Linked DNA regions of Homo sapiens: all the other regions are linked to region 1. The links come from fine-mapping of genetic effects on gene expression. A gene starts in region 1. Each other region holds a variant in brackets. All regions are shown on one strand. Distances are from middle to middle. Region 1 holds the start of ITIH2 (inter-alpha-trypsin inhibitor heavy chain 2). Region 2 overlaps KIN (Kin17 DNA and RNA binding protein). Region 3 overlaps TAF3 (TATA-box binding protein associated factor 3).

What was found.
Region 2: its variant is fine-mapped to the expression of ITIH2 in sun-exposed skin (GTEx, PIP 0.91).
Region 3: its variant is fine-mapped to the expression of ITIH2 in subcutaneous fat (GTEx, PIP 0.97).

What each region holds. Positions count from the first base shown.
Region 1 is chr10:7,701,263-7,706,262 of GRCh38, forward strand. It overlaps ITIH2 (inter-alpha-trypsin inhibitor heavy chain 2), which reads left to right and starts at 2,054. Exons shown (of 21, transcript NM_002216.3): 1 at 2,054-2,256; 2 at 3,846-3,920. The coding sequence starts at 2,173.
Region 2 is chr10:7,754,711-7,759,710 of GRCh38, forward strand. It overlaps KIN (Kin17 DNA and RNA binding protein), which reads right to left. Exons shown (of 13, transcript NM_012311.4): 13 at 1-1,432. The coding sequence ends at 1,370. Among named protein-coding and RNA genes, the nearest start is that of KIN, 31 kb to the right of the region's middle. The variant A/G (reference allele first, on the strand shown) is at 3,007.
Region 3 is chr10:7,825,951-7,837,272 of GRCh38, forward strand. The region is part of intron 2 of TAF3 (TATA-box binding protein associated factor 3); the gene reads left to right. Among named protein-coding and RNA genes, the nearest start is that of TAF3, 13 kb to the left of the region's middle. The variant T/TG (reference allele first, on the strand shown) is at 9,379.

The sequences.
Region 1 (5,000 bases):
GGAGGCTGAGGCAGGTGGATTACTCGAGGTCAGGAGTTTGAGACCAGCCTGACCAATATGGTGAAACCCCATCTTTACTTTAAAAAAAATAATACAAAGTTAGTTGTGGTGGTGCACGCCCGTAATTCCAGCTACTTGGGAGGTTCAGGCAGGGGAATCGCGTGAACCTGGGAGGTGGAGGTTGCAGTAAGCCAAGATCATGCCATTGCGCTTGAGTCTGAGCCACAGAGTGACGCTCCCTCTCAAAAAAAAAAAAAAAAAAGGACTTTGGGATCTGAAGACAGAGTATCAGCATGGAAAAAAGTCCAGCCTGCTTTTGGTTTGGTTTATTCTGAGATAATTCTGAATATCAGATTAAAATAATCAGAAAGGAAATGATCAATGGAAGGAGGTATGATTTTGAAAGTCACTGCTGTTTTTGGGAGAACATGCCATTGGGTTTTTTATTATTTATTTATTTTTTTCTTTTGAGACCAAGTCTTGCCCTGTTGCCCAGGTGGAATGCAGTGGCGTGATCTCAGCTCACTCTAACCTCCGCCTCCCCAGTTCAAGCAATTCTCATGCCTCAGCCTCCCAAGTAGCTGGGATTACAGGCGCATGCCACCACACCTGGCTAATTTTTGTATTTTTAGTAGAGACGGGGTTGCACTATGTTGGCCAGGCTGGTCTCAAACTCCTGACCTCAGGTCATCCACCCGCCTCAGTCTCCCAAAGTGCTGGGATTACAAGTGTGAGCCACCGCGCCCAGCTGCCATTGGGTCTTAATTCTCCAGAAACAGTATCTCAGTCAAGAATGCAAAGCTGTGGCAGGATTTTTCCATGAGGGGTCCACTGAGGCACTCACTGGCCAAGGTGGGCGCTCAACTAGTCCAACCTAGGCAAGGGAGGGGAGAATCTGTTTTCTCCCTTCCATTATTTCAGAAGTTATGTTTCTCCAGCAGACACACGGCTGTGCAATTTCGAAGACTGAGGGGAAACTAGGGAGGAAAATGCAGAAAACTCTCTGTTGCATGCCCTGTGAATTGGGCTTTAAATGTAGCAAGGAGCTCCAGGATCCCAGAAGTTGGCCTGGGGTGCTTGGTCCTGAGGATAAGACAACCTCCCTTGTATTGTAATTCTGCCCACAGCTGGAGCTTCCTATTTCAGTGTTGCATCCAAGAAGTTACATTTCCTGTTTGTTGCAAGAAAAATAGAATCTGACCAGGATGGAGGCTAGGCATGGGGGCTCACATCTGGAATCCCAGCAGTTTCGGAGGCTGAGGCAAGCAGATAGCTTGAGCCCAGGTGTTCAAGACCAGGATGAGCAACATGATGAAATCCCATCTCTACAAAAAATAGCCAGGCAGTGTAGTGCACACCTGTAGTCCAGCTACTCTGGAGGCTGAGGTGGGCAGATTGCTTGAGCCGGGGGAAGTTGAGGCTGCAATGAGCTTTGATCTCACCACTGCACTCCAATTCTGAGACTGGGGAGTATTGATTTGCCACTGACCTGAGCCCGGCTGATAGGGGCAGCAGGACAGACACTGTTACCTTAATCAAAGACATTCACGAAGCATTCTCACTGAAGATCTGCCCTAGTATCCTGCACAGCCACTTGCCTGGGTCTTTATAGGTAACAGGTAGACAGTCATCAAAGAGATAGGGGAAAACATGCACAATGAATTCTTTGCTCAGAAAAACCCTTCTGTGTCTTCTCCCACTTTTTCTAAATTTTTCCTGCTTTCATTTAGATCAAAGGATTTTGTTTCTTGGAATAGTTCTGCACTTGGTCCTTTAGAAAGGATGACAATTATCTGTAGGTCTCTCTGATTTTAAGATCAATAGAAATCAGCAAAAGCCAAAAAATAAAAAATAAAAATAAAATAAAAGCACACAAGCACATTCAAGCACATCCATCTGCCCCTGACTTGTCCTCACAGTAAGCAACTGCTTCTGACTTTGCTGTTTGAATAACCTCTGGGTGTTCGATCCACCCACACAGCTCAAGTTTGAGCTCCAGAACAAATATTTGTCCCAATTTTGAACAAAGTTAGAGAGTTTTTTCTTCTTTTTTCTTCTTTCTTAAAGCGAACTGTACTCCTCTGCTGTTCCTTTGAACTTGGTTCAGTAGGAAGAAGTGATATCCTCCCCAGACCATCTGCTTTGGGGAGCTTGGCAAAACTGTCCAGCAAAATGAAAAGACTCACGTGCTTTTTCATCTGCTTCTTTCTTTCTGAAGTATCAGGCTTCGAAATCCCCATAAATGGACTTTCTGAAGTAAGTACTTACAGATCACTCCTTGCTGTTGGCTTGTTCATGAGCTCAGTAAATCATCTATTGGAATCGCTATTCAATGGCCTTATTCTGTGTGTAATGGAAACTTAAGATAAAATTCATCTGAGTGCAAGTGTTTACTGTTATAATTACTGGAATGTATATTTACCTTTTAAAGCATTAACAGGTTTTGCATGAAAATTAAGTCAAGATCAATGGGCAGGCATCAGAGCGTAGCATTTATGGAGCAGAGCTGCTCACTCCTCACCTAAAAAATTGGGGGTAAGAATAGACCTAACCCAATGGTTTGCTTTGAGAATTAAATGACACAGTGTAAACTCTTCTAGCAGAGCGCCTGGACTAGTAAGTGCTTAATAATTACTAGCTGTTATGATGATGAAGAAATATTATCACTCTTTTACTAAGAGTATAAGAAAAGTCATTATCAAAGCACACTGTTTTTCATATCTAAGTGAACAGTGATATTTGTAATAAGAGCACTTTAAGTATTCCTATTAAAGCGGAAGATAGCAGGCAGGGTGGAAAAGTACAAGAATAATTCCCATGGAGTACAGGTCTCCACTTTTGTCCCTTAGCCATCTCCAATGTAAGGAAAGTCTTGGACTGAAAGTCTGTTTCTGAAAGTCATACAAGAGCTATTTTTATGCCAGAAAAGCGAAGCATGTTATGGGAACATCCCAGCAAATGCAAAGGCTTATAATACTTGCAGAGTGGATTACCTATAAAAATGCCAGAGAATATGACGGCATATTTACAAAGGGAAAATATCACTCTGTCTGCTTTGAAACTATCATATTTTCCAACACTTAAAAGCCACCAGAGTGTGTTAGAAATCTCAAATTGAAGCCAAGACATCCAAATGTGTTTGTGCTTTTTCAGTCATTTCTAACTGGCATTTCCTTTTAGAAAATACCTACATTTTTAACTTGGGGAGATGTATGGTTCATGTCTGTCCAGTCAGACACTGCAAATGCCTCCAGGGTCTACCCAGATACTTCCCCAGACACCCACCTAATCACTGGGTTGTTTTGATCTCTGTCTTACCACCTGCTGGCAAACTCAAAAATGAATTCCCATGTCCAACAAATGCGAAGGTGTTGTTACCCTCCATTTGGACACCTCTGAGACGTAACCAGCAAATAGAAATATACTAAAGAAATCATTTTATACAAAATTGTGATTGCCCAGAGGTAGAGGAAAGAATATAAAATAATGAATACCAACAGCTATCTCTTTGGCTCTAGATCTTTTGGAAATCATCATTCTCAGCAAAGTAACACAAGAAGGGAAAACCCAACACCGCATGTTCTCACTCATAAGTGGGAGTCGAACAACGAGAACACATGGACACAGGAAGGGGAACATCACACACTGGGGCCTGTCAGGGGGTGGGGGGCTAGGGGAGGGATAGCATTAGGAGAAATACCTGACGTAAATGATGAGTTAATGGGTGTAGCAAACCAACATGGCACATGTATACCTATGTAACAAATCTGCACGTTGTGCACATGTACCCCAGAACTTACAGTATAATTAAAAAAAAAAAAGTTAAAATCCTAATTTTTTTTAAGTTTGTAGACTATGAAGATCTTGTGGAACTGGCCCCAGGCAAATTTCAATTGGTGGCAGAGAACCGGAGATATCAGGTATAGTAAGGTTTACTCCCAAAAGGGGGAAAAAAAGTGAAAGAGATTATGGCAGAAGAAGACAAGTGTTAAGATGCCTTCTGCTAGATTTTCTTAAGAGTTTGTTTTTTAGCACAGAAGAGTCCAGACTTCTTACACCTTGGTGGAAGAGATCACCCAGGTGAAATAAAAAGAGAAACTCACACAACTGCTCAGCAGCCTTCACACCATAATGCTCAATTTAGTCCCTTAAAGAGTACACGACTCAGCACAGTGGCTCCCACTTATAATCACAGCATTTTCAGAGGCCAAGGAGGGAGGATCACTTGAGGCCAGGAGTTCCAGATCAGCCTGGGTAACATAGTGAGGCTCTACCTCTGCCACCCAGCTAATATATATATTAGCTGGCATGCACCTGTAATCCCAGCTATTTGAGAAGCTGAGATGGAGGATCACTTGAACCCAAGAGTTCGAGGCTGCAGTGAGCTATGATTGCACCAGCCTGGGCAACAGAGGGAGACGCTGTCCCCACTCCATTTAAAAAAAAAAAAAAAAAAAAGAATACATGGCTATGTGTTTTCTTCAAAACTTAAGATTCCGAAATTATTTCCTGCCTTGCCGGAAGGATTTCCTGTTAGGAAGACTTTTCTTATTTTAGCGATGACAGACACTCCCCCTTGCAGCCTCACAATCTCCTTCCTCTGGTCACTCTGAGGGCACCTGAGAAGGAGAATTGGCCACATTGGAAGTTGCAATCCTGGCGGCCACCAGCAGCAGTATAGACAAAACCCTCTAATTAAGGGGGTGAGTTTTCCAGAACACCAGGAAGGGCTTGGCTTCTTCCCCACGGAGCCCACATGCTGAGAGAGGAGGTATTTACGGAAGCAGCAACCCTAAGCTGATCAATGTCTTATTTTGTATGGGTGTGAATTTTTTACTTTCTGAAAATCCAGGATTTTTTTTTGTAGACTAATAATATTAAAATCCAATAAGCAAGACTTCATGTCACAATTTATTTAGCCACAAGAGAGAAAAATTTGTCATTGAGCATTGCATTCAAGAAGTCTACAAGAAGAGGTCAACCATTGACCTCACCATGTC
Region 2 (5,000 bases), 53 kb after region 1:
AGAGTGCTCAAGAATGTAAATGTAGAGAGCCAGCACAGGAGCCAGAGACAGAGCGGAAGCCCAGGGAAGGCTGTTCACACCCGGTCCCGCTGCCCTGGAAGCTAGCGTCTGCTCCTTTCAGTCATGTGCACTACAAATATCCCTTCGTTTTTCCTTTGGCACAGGCAAATGTGGGTTTCCTGTCTTTTGCATTCCCTAATAATACACTGCCCTACTTATTTCAAACTGTATGGTTAGGCAGGGTGCTGTGGCTCACACCTGCAATCCTAGCACTTTGGGAGGCTGAGGCAGGAGGATCACTTGAGCCCAGGAGTTTGACAGCAGCCTGGGCAACACAGTGAGACCATGTCTCTAAAAGTAAAAAAATTAAAAACAAATAAAACTATAGTTCAACATTGCTGGTAGGACTGTAAAATGGTATAGCTGCTCTGGAAGAGTTTGGCAGAAGCGAAAGCTTCTGTTCACATAAAATCCTGTAAATGGGTGATCATGGCAGCATTATTCACAATAGCCAAAAAGTAGAAACAATCTAAATGTTTATCAGCTGATGAATGGACAAACAAAATACGGTACATCCATACAGTGGAATATTAAGCAGCCATAAAAACAAATGAAGCACGCCTACATGCTACTGCATGGATAAACCTTGAAAACATGATGCTAAGTGTAAGAAGCCAGTCATAAAAGATCACATATTATATGATTCCATTTATAAGAAATGTCCAGAAAGGGCAAATCCATAGAGACAGAAAGTACATTAGTGGCTGTCTAGGGCTAGGGCAGAGGGGAAAAATAGCGATTGACTATTAAAGGGTTTCATTTTGGGGTATGAAAGTGTTTTAAAATCAGACAGTGGTGATGGCTGCACAATTCTGCAAAAATACTAAAAACCACTGAATTGTATGTATATTTTAAATGAGTGAACTGTATGGTATATGAATTATTACCACAATAAAGCTGCTTCTATATTTATAGTTTGACATTTAAAATTTAGTCACACTTAGAGTTCAACTTTACTACTCTACTACTGAAAATATAGAGTGTATGAAGGATTTCCTCCAATTACATGATTCTAAATTGTCATAGATAAAACACTTTATAATAACATTCTTTAATGAAGATATAAACTCATCAAGTAAATTACAAAGGAAACAAAAATAACAAGGACAAAATTACATAGTTTGATACCTCATGAGACATAATTAAATTCTTCTCAAAGTTTAGCTGAACAACTATACAGTAATATTTTCAAAAACCTGTTTGTTTTATACAAAAGAATATACCCTAACACAGTAGAGTCTCATAATGCCTTGGCGAACACCAATTTGATGCTTTAAGATTTTAATGTATTGTTAACAAATTTTCAAACTCAGGCAAGTTTAGAAATGTCTTCATATTGAATTCCTTCAACTCTGCGTCCTTTTAAAGGGCCCTACAAATTAAAATAATTTAAAATAAGGTTAAAAACACATATTCCTAAAAGACAAAAAAATGACACCATACTTATGGATACAAATTTGCCTTTTCCGCATCCCTAAAATACCATTAAGATTGTTAACATTTGTATACATCTATGAATTTTAAGAATAATCTATGGCATTCTCATTAAGAACTACCATATTTTCTTCTGTGACATCTGACATACGTTATCAATAGACATTGTGGCAGAGACCTGCAAGCTGTTCAGTATCTCCTCTGCTTCCTGGATAAATAGCCAGTTTCCTGGCTCCCTTGTGGTTAGCTGTGGCCATGCATGGAGCTCCAGCCCATGAAAGCAAACAGAAGTGACGGTCCAGACGTGCTATAACTGACACACAATCTGCCAAGCTCCTTTTGCCTGCCCAGTGCACACAGACATGGCAACTGGAGATGCCACTTGAGGGCAGTAGAGGCACTAGCTGGAAGGACCCTGGGTTCACAAATCGCCACTTAGAAAGAGTTCCCTGATCAAAAATACCCATTTGGGGTTTTTAGAGTGAAACGTTAACTTCTACCATGTTTGTGCCATTGTCCATTTGGGGTTTTCTTTTTTTTATAGGAAATATCATTTTGTAAGCATTACGATACTCAAACATGTTTGTCTAGGTTGGCTGTGATAGTTACACTGGTCCAGATTATAAAAAGAGTCCAACTTTAACTTTATTTTCTTCTTTCATATCGAACAAAAAGGGAAAGAGGAAAACTTAATTAATGAAAGATATTTTCTATCACAAAAGCGGATATAACCTGGGAACACAGAGGCTAAGAATATGGGCTGTGAACCTACACTCCCCAAGTTCAAATCTCACTTTCAACAATTGATTTAACCTCTCTGTCCTTCAGTTTCCTCTCTGTGCCTTATTATCTCCCAGTGGAAATAATGGTAATGTCTGTATGATTGGGTTGTTGGGAAATATAAATGAGTTATTTCATATAAAGTGACTAGACCTGGAACTTAATATGAGTGAGAGCTCAATAATTTTCAACTCTAATTATTATTTAATCTTTTGTTTAAAATTTGAGAGTTGGGTCGGGCGCAGTGCTCACATCTGTAATCCCAGCACTTTGGGAGGCCGAGGCAGGTGGATCACCTGAGGTCAGGAGTTTGAGACCAGCCTGACCAACATAGTGAAACCCTATCTCTACTAAAAATATAAAAATTAGCTGGGCATGGTGGCACACACCTGTAATCCCAGCTACTTGGGAGGCTGGAGCAGAAGAATTTCTTGAACCCGGAGGCAGAGGTTGCAGTGAGCTGAGATCGCGCCATTGCACTCCAGCCTGGGCGACAGAGTGAGACTCTGTCTTGAAAATAAATAATAAAATAAAATAAAATTAAATTAAATAAAATTAAAATTAAATTTGACAGTTAATCCTCTCCCTTGCAAAATATAACATGATGATGATGACAATAATGATGATGACAATGATGATGACTCTAACCCTAGAACTGAGATTTTAACATTTTTTTACTGCTTCCCTTCACAACAAATAATTATCATATTTAAAGGAATTAAGTTCCCAGAT[A/G]AAGTATAACCTAGGTTAGATTTTTCATTATCATGTTTAATGGTCTATGGTCAATTACATTTTTCTGATAAGTACCATAAATCTGGAGAATAAGAAGGGAGCCAGACATTTGGGCTTATAGGGCAAATAGCTAAAAAGCTGAAGCTATTTAGGAACAATTTATTGGATGTTAAAAATCTGCTTGATATATGTATAAATTTCAAATATTATCAACGACATGAAAACTTAAGGTGCCAGAAATGATAAAAATAACCACTTGCAAAGCTCAAGTGATGACACAAGCATATACAGAGATTTTTTTTTTTTTTTTAATGAGGACAGGCTGAAGAAAGGAAGAAAAAAAAATTAGGAGACAGATTCCCTTTTTTTTTTTTTTTGAGACGGAGTCTCGCTGTCACCCAGGCCGGAGTAAGTGGCGCAATCTTGGCTCACTGCAATCTCTGCCTCCCAGGTTCAAGCGATTCTCCTGCCTCAGTCTCCCGAGCTGGGACTTCAGGCATTTGCCACCGCGCCCAGCTAATTTTTGTATTTTTAGTGGAGATGGGGTTTCTCCATGTTGGCCGGGCTGGTCTCGAACTCCTGACCTCAGGTGATTCGTCCGCCTCAGCCTCCCAAAGTGCTGGAATTACAGGCATGAGCCACCATGCCAAGCTGGTAGATTCCCTCTTCTAAAAGAAGTACATGTTGCTTTGCAATCAAACAGAAAGGCTTTTCATGTGGATTTGCTGCTAAGTTCTACCTCAGTACAGAAGATGAAACTGGGTCTACAGTGCAGAAGGTGAGAAATTAGTTTTTGATGAATGGACACAACCTGCGAACCAAAGGTATCGAGATGGAACTCAACACAGCCTCAACAGTAATCAGTTGTTTTGTGTTTCCCTGAGATGAAAACATGAAACAGGATCTGCATTTGATAGCACTATGAAATTAATAAGGTAAGTTTCATGCATGGTCCATGCAAAAAAAAAAAAAAAAGAAATTAATAAGGGAAGGATAAGCAAGTTGTCAAGGAAATACTGGATTTTCTACTGCCTTATGCTGATAGAGTCAGAGAAAATCTTATAGAGTTTTTTGTTAAAACTCAATCTGCTAATTTAGTCAGACTGACATGTTCCTCAATGCCAAGTAGGAGTCCTTTTTCCCTTTCTTCCCCTTAGTTTACGTTAGTAACAGTTAGCAAGTAACAGCTTCTAGGTTAGCATTGTCAGGATCAGAAAGAAAAAAAAAAAGGAGAAAAGCTTGATTTACTGAAATGAGAATTCTCTCAAATAAGGACCTAAATGGTTTTTCCAGAAAACCTTCCTAGACACATATTCTCTAACAGGTCCATGGGCTTAGGGGGCCTATAAACTCCCCAAGAGAACAAATAAAATTTGGCAATTATGTGCAATGTTTTGAAGAGTCTAAACTTTCATTAAACTCTCTAAGTGAGCTATTACTCCCAAGCTCCCCCAGAAATACTAAAACTGACTGTACTGGAGATAAAAAATTCTTTTGTTTAGCATCAAAGATATGCAGTGCAGTAGTTCAGAGTTCTAAAAGGAAACTTTCTTTCTGAAGATATCTCAGACCTCACTCACAGACCTGTGAGTGAAATATCAGTTCTAAGTCAATAACCAACTTTATTTATAAGTCAGAGTTCTTTAAATTACTGTATTGATCTCTGCTACCTTAAATCCTTTATGAAAAAAGGGGAGACATTTTAAAAAGTGGTTGACCTCTGTGGTTCCCTCCCTCTTGACAATGACTTTACTTCCCCCACTAACTTTACTATGCCAAATTGAGTTTTATATTCGATATGAGGGGAAAAAAGGATATAAAACTGTACCTATTACACACACTTTCATAAAACACCAAGATTGGAAAGGAACAGACCAAAATATTAATGGGGTTTATTGTTGGGCTGGGGGACTATGATTAATTTTTATAATTATTTATATTAAATTATGTTTTTTGGGGTTTTATGCATGAGTACACATTTCTTTTATAATCAG
Region 3 (11,322 bases), 130 kb after region 1:
AAGCTTCCTATCAGCAGTGCCCAAGGGTTCCAATTTCTTGCAATTCATTTCTTAGAATCGGTTCTACTTTAATAGCATTTTGAAGTGTTACCTATTTGTCTCAGGAAGTATGTTTAAATTTGGCATAAGTTGTTGTACAGTCTGTGTGTCAGGGTTGCCTCATCTGAAAAACTGGACAGCTACTGGACCTAAGTGGTAGGGATTTGTTGTGAATTGGTGGCTCATCATTTAGGTGCTCTGGATCTTAGCTGCAGTGGGTTCTACTGAATGATACTAACACACCGACAGCCCAGAACCAAAACTAGGACTTTGATCATAATCTACACTTAACTATTTGGTCCTTCTTGTCTTATTTTTATAGCATGCAAATATTCCATAATAAAATTCTCTTAAAGTGCTATGGTTATCATATTTAAATACTAGCAAGGAAATGTAACTAAGATAACAGGTTTAGATTAGGTAGTGAAGAAGTATGAAAAACAATTTAGTGTTTTTTTTGTTTTGTTTTGTGTTGTTTTGATACTGACTTCTGGCTGAAATTACTATATTACTATAGATTTTTGGGTTTCTTTTCTGGGTTATTTGAAGCAAAAAAAGAAACTCATTTAGTTTTATGCAAACAATATAAATTATAAACATTTTAAAAGGAAAATAACAAATCTTGAGAACACTACTTTTCACTTTTTATCTAACACATGTGGATTAAGAAGGAAAAATATTGCTGATTTGTAATATATGCATATGGTTTATAAGGATGCAGTAAGTGGTAGGCAGTACAGTAAGATGCTTGTCAAAACGTTCTCCTCTTCATAAGAAAAGGATATAAAATGCAATTCTTTGGTTACCATTTAAAAATATAACCATACAAGACCATTTCTTGTCATTTACAATCTGAAATATTTTTTTTTCATGGGTACAGCATGTTAGAAAGTTCCTGGTATTCTGATTAGTGGTGCAAAGTGAGGTACAGAGGTGAACCCCTTTGATAATGATGCTGTTCACCATGCTCTTTATTTTCCTTTTATTTCCTTAAGAGCCACAGACAGGCCAGACTTTGGTCTTAAAATATTATTAGCAAGGTCCTTCCATGGGGTTCCCTCTTATCAGCCACTCAGCTTGGTTCATGTCAAAAAAGCCTGTGAAAGTCTCCCTCCACAGCAGCTGGAGCTGGCGAGTGTGCACACATAGAAGGCCTGAAGGGGCAGCAGGCTGTGAGAGGCACAGCGTGGACCTCACGGCATCACTGAGACATGACTCAGCGAGTCACTGAGTTTCTGGTCTTCCCAAGTCACTTTACCTTTCTGAACTTTATATTCATCTGTAAAATAAGTGTAATAACACCTACCACATTGGGGAAATGGAGAATCAAGTAATTTTTTTTTGTTAACACATTTATATAAAATTGGACAGTGTTTAACATATAAAATACATAACAGTGGGCCAGGTGTGATGGCTTATGCACTTTGGGAGGCTGAAGCTTGAGCCCAGGAGTTTGATACCAGCCTGGGCAACGTCATGAGACCTCATCTCTACTAAAAATAAAAAACTTGGCTGGGCGCAGTGGCTCACGCCTGTAATCCCAGCACTTTGGGAGGCGGAGACGGGCGGATCACGAGGTCAGGAGATCGAGACCATCCTGGCTAACACAGTGAAACCCCGTCTCTACTAAAGATACAAATATTAGCTGGGCGTGGTGGCGGGTGCCTGTAGTCCCAGCTACTCGGGAGGCTGAGGCAGGAGAATGGCGTGAACAGAGGAGGTGGAGCTTGCAGTGAGCCGAGATTGTGCCACTGTACTCCAGCCTGGGTGACGGAGCGAGACTCTGTCTCAAAAAAAAAAAAAAAAACAAAAACAAAAACTTAGCTGGGCATGGTGGTGCACGCTTGTAGTCCCAGCTATCAGAGTCTGTGGTGGGAGGATCAGTTGAGCCCAGGGGTCAAGGCTGCAGTGAGCTATGATCACACCACAGCACTCCAGCCTGAGTGACAGCGAGACCCTGTCTCAAAAAAAAATAAAACACATGACAGCGAATATTAGTTCTCGTCCCCTTTTTCTTTTCTTGCTCTTAAATAATTTACTTTTGAATTGAAATACAATATACATTAGTGAAGTCACGCTATAAGGGGAATCGGTGTCAAGCTGCATTCAGTGGCACACCCATAGTCCTAGCTACTTGGAAGGCCAAGGCAGGAAGATCGCTTGAGCCCAGGAGTTTGAGGCTGTAGTGCGCAATGATTGAGCCTGTGAATGCCCACTGCACTTCAGCCTGGGCAACATAGCAGGACCCTGTCTCTGAAAAAAAGAGACGAATCAATGTAAAGTAGTGTTACCATCACGTGCTGAGGATCTGAGGGAACAGACTTACTAGCTGGGCTGGATAGGTACTTGACTGAGGAGCTGTGTGATTATCCGCAGTGTGAAGATGACAGATGAGGAGATGATGTGGAAGGAGTTATTGCCTGCTTTATCTGATTATATGTTTAGAAGTGAGACCTCTTTGAAAATATTTTATACATGCATATTTTTGCTTGGACTGTTACAGTTCTGATGGCTGGTACCCAGTGTGTTTTATCCAAGAACATTCTCTCCCCAGCTTGCCATACATATTTTCAGATTCACACCAATACCATATTTTTTTGCTTCCTATTTTATTGTGCTGAGGAATGTCTGAAAATAGTACAGCGTACTATGCCAAAGTCATTGTTGGTTCTCACAGTGTGGTCTCTAGATCACTGGTCAATGGGGGTCTTCTGGGGGGGTCTGTTGATTGGTTCAAAATATTTGCATAAGAAAGAAATATAGGCTGGGCGCAGTGGCTCACACCTGTAATCCCAGCACTTTGGGAGGCCGAGGTGGGCGGATCACTTGAGGTCAGGAGTTCAAGACGAGCCTGGCCAACATGGTGAAACCCTGCCTCTACTGAAAATACAAAAATTAGCTGGGTGTGGTGGTGCCTGTAGTCCCAGCTACTCGGGAGGCTGAGATGGGAGAATCACTTGAATCCGGGAGGCAGAGGTTGCAGTCAGCCGAGATCGTGCCACTGCACTCCAGCCTGGGTGACAGAGTGAGACTCCGTCTCAAAAAAAAAAAAAAAAAAAAAAAAAAAAGGAATATAAACCATGTACCCTGACTTATTGCAGGAAACTTACCAAGCTCAACTTAAACTTGGTAAAGATACTGTGAGGTTGCCACTTTTAGAGTTTCTATTTTTTAAAATTTAAAATAGACTATTTTTTAGAACAGTTTTGATTTACAGAAAAAATTGAGAAGTTAGTTTGGAGAGTTCACTCACATCTGAACCATTTCTTCTGTTATTAACCTTTTACGTGACTATGGTACGTGTATCACAATTAATGAACAATATTGACATGTTATTATTAAGTGACGCCCGCACTGTATTGACATTCCTTAGTTTTTACTGGATGTCCTTTTTCTGTTTCTGGATCCCATCCAGGATATCATATTGTGTTTGGTTGTCACGTCTCCTTAGACTTTTCTTGGCTGTGACAGTTTTTCAGACTTTTCTTGTTTTTGACGACCTTGACAGTTTTGAGGATTATTGGTTAGGTATATTGTCGGATGCCCCTCTAGTGGAATTTTTCTGATGTTTTCCTCATGATTAGACTGGGGTTATGAGATCTTGGGGAGAAAGACCACAGAGGTCAAGGGCCATTTTTATGACATCATATCAAAGGTCTATCCTGTCATCATAATTTATCACTGTTGATATTGATGGTGATCACATGGCTGGGGTAGTGTTTATCTGGTTTCTTCACAGTAAAGTTTCTCTTCTATCCCCTCTTCCCCTACTGTGCTCTTTGGAAAGAAGTCACTGTGCGTAGCCCGCCCTTAAGGAATGGGAGTTATGCGTCCCGCTTTGAAGGTGGAATATCTGCATATGTTGTTAGGAACTCTTCTGCATGGGGATTTCTCTCTTTCCCCACTAAGATTTCTATTTTTATTATTAAACCCTTTAAAAGTAAACATTTACATGTTTGAAAAAATTAACAAAAGTAATACAAACTTGCTGAAAAAATATATTGCCAAGTGAATTCGTTATGAAATGGAAGTGTCTCTTCACTTCCCTTCCTCCCCCTTCCCAAGAATAACCTAGTTGGCAGATGGGGCTCCTCTGCATCTTCCCGTGTGACCTTTTGCACTCCTTGGACTCAAGAATCTATGTCCACTTCAGTACCTGCCATTTCTTTCTCAAGCTCCTGCCATCCTTTTCTTGAAGCAGTTCTTGCTGTGAACACCAATTACTATCTAAATGGTTGATCTGAAGGAAATTTAAACCCTTTCTCCCAGTTCAAGAAACAGAACTTTACCAGCTATCTCAGAATAGCTTCTATGTGCCCAACCCCACCCCACCCCTTCCTCCCTCCCTCCAAAAATAACCAACCACTGTCCTGACTTTGTAGGAATTACTCCTTAGCTTTATAGTTTTATCAGCCAAATGCGTATCCCTAGACACATTAATTTAATGTTCTTCACACATGCACACCTTTTTCACTTTACATGTCTTTTTTTTTTTTTTTTTTTTTTTTTTTTGAGAAGGAGTCTTGCTCTGTCACCCAGGCTGGAGTGCAGTGGCGCAATCTCGGCTCACTGCAAACTCCACCTCCTGGGTTCAAGCGATTCTCCTGCCTCAGCCTCCCGAGTAGCTGCAATTACAGGTGCATGCCACTGTGGCTGGCTAATTTTTGTATTTTTAGTAGAGACGGGGTTTCACCATGTTGGCCAGGCTGGTCTGGAACTCCTGACCTCAAGTGATCCGCCAGCCTCGGCCTCCCAAAGTGCTGGGATTCCAGGCGTGAGCCACCCCGCCCAACCATGTCATTTACCTTTTAGTTTGTGACTCTCCTTCCATTCCTTTCTTTGTCTTACAGTTTATTTGTTAGAAATCTGGGTTGTTTGATCTGCAGAGTGCCCCACAGTTGGATGTTGCGCATTGTGCACTCATAATGCAGCTCAATGTGTTTCTCAAAATTGGCAGCAAGAATCTGAGGCTTGACCAGATTTAGGTTTGGCAAGATATCAGCTGATGATGTCCAGTTTTCACTTTTGTTGGTGTTAGCAGTGCTGATGCTCAGTGCCTAGATCCATTAATTCATTAGGGGTTACAAAGTAATGATAATACTATCACTTTGTTTTTATTTCATTCTTTAGTTGAAATAACTTTATAAGAAAATCCTTTTCCTCATCCACTATTTAGTAACTTAATGGCATAGTTTATATAGGGAAAGCAGGGTTAACGCTTGATTTTTTTCATATGGTATATTCCCAGTTTTCATGAGAATAAATTGGTTCCTTGTTATCCTTAGCAGGTGACTAGTTTCATTTAATACTCTATCATTGTGAACTCACAGATTTAAACATACTTGACGGATTTCATTCATTACTTTTTTTTTTTGAGATGGAGTCTCACTCCATCGCCGAGGCTGGAGTGCAGTGGCTCAATCTTGGCTCACTGCAACCTCTGCCTCCCAGGTTCAAGGGATTCTCCTGCCTCAGCCTCTCCAGTAGCTGGGATTACAGGCATGTGCCACCACGCCCGGCTAATTTTTGTATTTTTAGTAGAGGCGAGGTTTCACCATGTTGGCCAGGCTGGTCTTGATCTCCTGATCTTGTGATCCTCCTGCCTCGGCCTCCCAAAGTGCTGGGATTACAGGAGTGAGCTACCGTGCCCGGCCTCATTACAGTTTTTTACCCATATTGTAGCTTTAATTGTTGCATCTTTGGCCAGTGGCAGCTTCTTCACTCTTGCTTCTGAGTCCTTTTGACACATGACCCGAATTGGCTTTGGTGACGTCCTCACCTTCTGGTATATCAAAATGTTCTAGACTCAGCATGTATAGTCATGTTCTATGCTTGGTATAAATTATCTGTCCAGGAAACCCTGGTTTCTTGGAAAGTAGTATTTCTTTTCTTTTTTTAATTTTAATTTTTTTTAATTATAAAATTTCAGGTTACATTTGTATATATCTGGGGGGTGCAAAGCGATGTTATGTTTTATAAATACAATGTGGAATAATTAAGTCAAGCTAGTTAACATACCTGTCACCTCAAATGCCTATCGTTTTTTGTGGAGAGAACATTTAAAACTTACTCTCTTAATGATTTTCAAATGTGTAATACATTATTATTTTTCTTTTTCACCATGCTGTGCAATGTATCAAAAAAAGTACTCCTCCTGTCAGATTGAGGCTTTGTACCCTTTGCCTATCATCTCTGTATCCCCACATCCCCACATCCCCTGCCCCAGCCTCTGTAACCACTGTTCTACTCTCTGCTTCTTGGAATTTGGTTCTTTTCGTCCACATATAAGTGAGAACATGTGGTATGTCTCCTTCTGTGCCTGGCTTACTTCACTTAGCAGAATTGTTTGAATTCCATCTATGTTGTCACAAATGACAAAATTTCCTTCTTTTTTTAAAGGCTGAATAATAATACTTTTTAATTTTTATGGGTACACAGTAAGTATAAATATTTATGGAGTACATAAGAATTTTAATAAAAGCACACCACAATGTGTAGTAATTACATCAGACTAAATTGGATATTTACCACCTGAAGCATTTATCATTTCTTTCTTATTTATTTATTTATTTTTGAGACAGTCTCGCACTGTCACCCAGGCTGGAGTGCAGTGGTGTGATCTCAGCTCACTGCAAGCTCCATCTCCTAGGTTCAAGTTTAAGTGATTCTTGTGCCCCACCCTCCCCAGTAGTTGGGATTACAGGTGCCCACCACCACACCCGGCTAATTTTTGTGTTTTTAGTAGAGATGCGATTTCACCATGTTGGCCAGGCTGGTCTGAAACCCCTGGCCTCAAGTGATCTGCCCACCTCAGCCTCCCAAAGTGCTGGGATTACAGGCATGAGCCACTGCACCTGGCCCAGCATTTATCATTTCTTTGTGCTACAGATATTCCAGTTATACTCTTTTAGTTATTTTTAAATGTACAGGGTGCAGTAGCTCACACTTGTAATCTTGTCACTTTGGGAGTCTGAGGCAGGAGGATGATTTGAGGCCAGGAGTTCGAGATAAAATGTTCAATAAATTATTGTTGACTTTAGTCACCCTGTGGTGCTATTAAAGGCTGAATAGTATTCTGTGGTGTATATATATTACATTTTCTTTATCCACTCATCTGTTAATGGACACTTAGGTTATTTCTGTAACTTGGCTATTGGGAACAGTGCTGCAGTGAACTTGGGAGAGCAGAATCTCTTCCACATAATCTTTTCAAATCTTTTGGGTAAATACTCAGGAGTGGGGTTGCTGGATTATATGGTAATTCTATTTTGAGTTTTTGGAGGAAACTCCACATAGTTTTCCATGACTACTAATCTAAATTCCCACCAACAGTGTACAAGGATTCCCCCTTTTCTCCACATCCCTGCTAACACTTGTTACCTTTCATCTTTTTTATAGCAGCCATTCTAACAGGTGTGAGGTAATATCTCACTGTGGTTTTATTTCTGTAATGATTAGTAATGTTGAACATTTTTTCATGTATTTGTTGGCAGTTTGTATGTCTTATTTTGAGGAATGTCTATTCATTTTTTATTGGATTATTTCTTTCTGTAGGGTTTTCTTTTTTCCTTTTTTGGGGACCCAGCAATACTGCTGATTTATTACAAGTCCCCAAGAGGGCTTCAGTTTTTCTTTTCAACATCCTGTTCTGTAGCTTCCATGTCTCTTTTTGTCCATATGTGGAGGAGCCAGGCATTGGCACGGGCCATGCAGCAACTAGCAAAGGCTCTGAAATTCTTCTCCTCAGTGGTGACTTGAGCTTTCTCCTTCTCATAGACATTCTGGATGGGCATGACTGGTCCTGTCAGCTGGGTGGCCAATTGCAGTTCTTCAGCAGAACTGTCTCCCTTCCTGGGGACCGAGGGCTTCCTGGGGAAGAGGATGAGTTTGGAGCGGTACCCCTTCAGCCGCTGCACAGTGCGTGTGGAAGTGGGGCTTCAAGATCTTGCCATTCCCGCTGGGCACCATGGCTGCCTGCTGTCCTCCGGCACAGGACAACAGCCAGACTGTTCTTTCTATAGAGTTGTTTGGGTTCCTTATATATTTTGCCTTTTTTTTTGGTGGTGGTTGTGGCTCTTGTTGTTGTTGAGTTGCTTACATGTTTTGGGCGTGAGCCCCTTGTCAGATGTGTGGGTGCACGTGTTTTCCTCCTCACCCACAGGTTGTGCCTTCACTCTGCTGTTTCCTTTATTGTGCCAAAGCTTTTTATTTTGATGGAATCCCATTTGTTCAGTTTTGCTTTTGTCACCCTGCGCTTTTGGGGCCAAATATAAAAAATAATTGCCCAGACCAGTGTCTTACAGTTTTTCCCCTATGTTTTCTTTTAGCAGTTTTGTAGTTTCAAGTCTTACATTTAGGTCTTTATTCCATTTTGAGTTGATTTTTCTAAGTGGTATGAGATAAGGATCCAATTTCATTCTTCTGCATATGGATATCCAGTTGTCTCCACGCTGGGAAATAGCATTTCAAGTACACAGTCTCGGTGCTAAGGGATACTTATTATATATAACTCGGTTGTTCATTGTTTCTAGGCAATAAGTAAATAAATATTTATATACATGTAGATGTGTGTGAATAGATAGATAGGTGGATAGGGTTCCTCCTGAGTTCATGCAGATTTTCCAATTCATATTTAGGACTACAAGGTTTTTATTTTTTATGTTACATCCATAAATACTGTCATCCATACTGAGAATTCTGGTTCTCAGGAATAAAGAAGATGATAAAATTAGAATATTCCATAATTATTCATTTGCTTTATCCCAGATTACACGTACAATATTGCAACTGATACTATCATTCATGATTACTGAAACAGGTAAAAAAAATTTTTTTTGCTCATTCTGTCCTATGAAACCAATTTTCTTTCATTTTACCGTGTGTATCTTGTCAGATCATATAGCTACTGTCTTGAGTTCTGCTACCTAATTTCTGAGTTTTTTCTGATTTTGATTTATATACTTTCATGTCTTTTAGATCATTTCAAGATAGAACATTATAGGTTCATCAGTTTTTTCGAGTGTGTGTTTCTCTCGTACTTTCATTGTCTGGAGGGATGTTTTGCTATTTAGTCTTCTCTTCTTTATAGAAACTATATGTGAGTTAGTTTTCTGAGCCTTTAGAACACAGGTGTCCAATCTTTTGGCTTCCCTGGGTCACACTGGAAGAAGAAGGATTGTCTTTGGCCACACATAAAATACACTAACACCATCGATAGCTGCTGAGCTAGAAAAAAAAGTCACACACAAAAAAGTCATAATGTTTTAAGAAAGTTTACAACTTTGTGTTGGGCTGCATTCAAAGCCGTCCTGGGCCGCATATGGCCCATGGGCTGTGGGT[T/TG]GACAAGCTTGCTTTAGAAGGAGATTCAGGGTAGCTCCTCTGACTTTGCAGTGCTCCCTCTTCTATCGTTTTTGCGGAATGTTCCAAATATGGGAACTTGCTCACTGAGATTTTTTGTTTGTTTTCCTCCACCACTTTTACCTGGATCTTCTCTTCCCTTCATGTCAGTTTTCCTTTTTCTGGCCAGCTGTGATTCCACTGCCAGCTGTGTCCTCTCAGCGAGGCTCTGTCCTGGCAGAGAGCAGCCAGGGTCAAGTCTGAGAGCTCCTGGGCTCAACTTCTAGCCCCATTGGATCTCACTCAGCCCCTTGTACTCCCTGTACTGGAAGTGGTCCCATCCTTCCCAGCCTCAGCCGCTCTTCTCGGGTTGGCCTGCCGGGCTTTCCAGCAGAGGCCTGGTGGCCCTTTTGGGGTTTTCCTGTTTCAGGTCAGTCTTCCCGTTGCTTCTCACTGTTTCCCTTGCATAGATGCCTCATACTCGGGTCTCATGGCGCTTGGTGGCATGTTGTCACCTGCATGTATTTTGGCACTGATGGGTGTACTCTGTCACCTGGTTATGTTGGGAAGATGCACAAACTACCTTGCCCCAGCTACCACTTTCTTCCCAGGATTCCCCTTATTGAAGCTTTTTGCTGCTTTCATCACTGTTGGGCAATTCCTGAAGCTGCTTTTCTTCAGCGCCATCATACTCCCTTAACTCTCCTTATATGATGAGCTCCATCTTGGGGCCTTTCTTGGGCACGTCTTCCCTGGCTCTCCTACTGCTAAAACATTGGTGCTTCTAAAATTTTATCCTTCACCTACTATGTTTCTCACGTTACTTAGTTTCAGAGTTGACTTTCCTACTCTCATAGTTTGAACCCCCATCTGTATGCTGATGCCTCCCCAAACTGTCCCTCTACATCCACCTCTCAGACCCTGCAACCAGTTGCAGTTGGCCATTTCCACGTTTTCTTTTTTCTTTCTTTTTTTTTTTTTTGAGACGGAGTTTCGCTCTTGTTGCCCAGGCTGGAGTACAATGGCACAACCTCCGGCTCCCTGGTTCAAGTGATTCTCCTGTCTCAGCCTCCCGAGTACCTGGGATTAGAGGCATGAGCTACCAAGCCCAGCTAATTTTGTATTTTCAGTAGAGACGGGGTTTCTCCATGTTGGTCAAACTGGTCTTGAACTCCCGACCTTGGGTGATCTGCCCACCTTGGCCTCCCAAAGTGCTGGGATTACAGGCGTGAGCCACTGCACCCGGCCCATTTCCACATTTTCTTACCACGAATACACCTGTGTTATCCATCTCAGTTGGTGGCACCATCTCTACTCAGTCACCTAAGCTAGAAACATGAGAATTAGCATTGACCTCTTCTCTCATTCTCCTTCATTCCCTATCTCTAATTCTGCTAATTTTCTTTCTTAAAAAATTTCCAAAATATTATTGCATCACTTCCTTTGTTTAAACCTTTATCTCTTGTCTGAACTGTCCTTATCCTCTAAACGAAACTATTAGACAAAAAATTAACACATCCCACATTATAAAACACTTTGTTGGCTCTCCAACTGCTTACAGTTACCAAAAATACCTATGGAGAGGAGTTTTCTTTTTTGCATCAAAATGAAAAGAGCTTTGGTTGAGTGTGATGGCTCATGCCTATAATCCCAGCACTTGGGAGGCCAAGGCAGGAGGATCGTTTGAGCCCAGGAATTTGAGACCAGCCTGGACAACATAGTGAGACCTTGTTTCTATAAAAAATTTAAAAATCTGGCCAGGCGTGGTGGCTCACACCTGTGATCCCAGCACTTTGGGAGGCCAAGGTGGGCAAATTGCTTGAAGTCAGGAGTTCAAGACCAGCCTGGCCAACAGGGTGAAATCCTGTCTCTACTAAAAATACAAAATTTAGCTGGACATGGTGGCATGGGCCTGTAGTCCCAGCTACTCGGGAGGCTGAGGCAGGA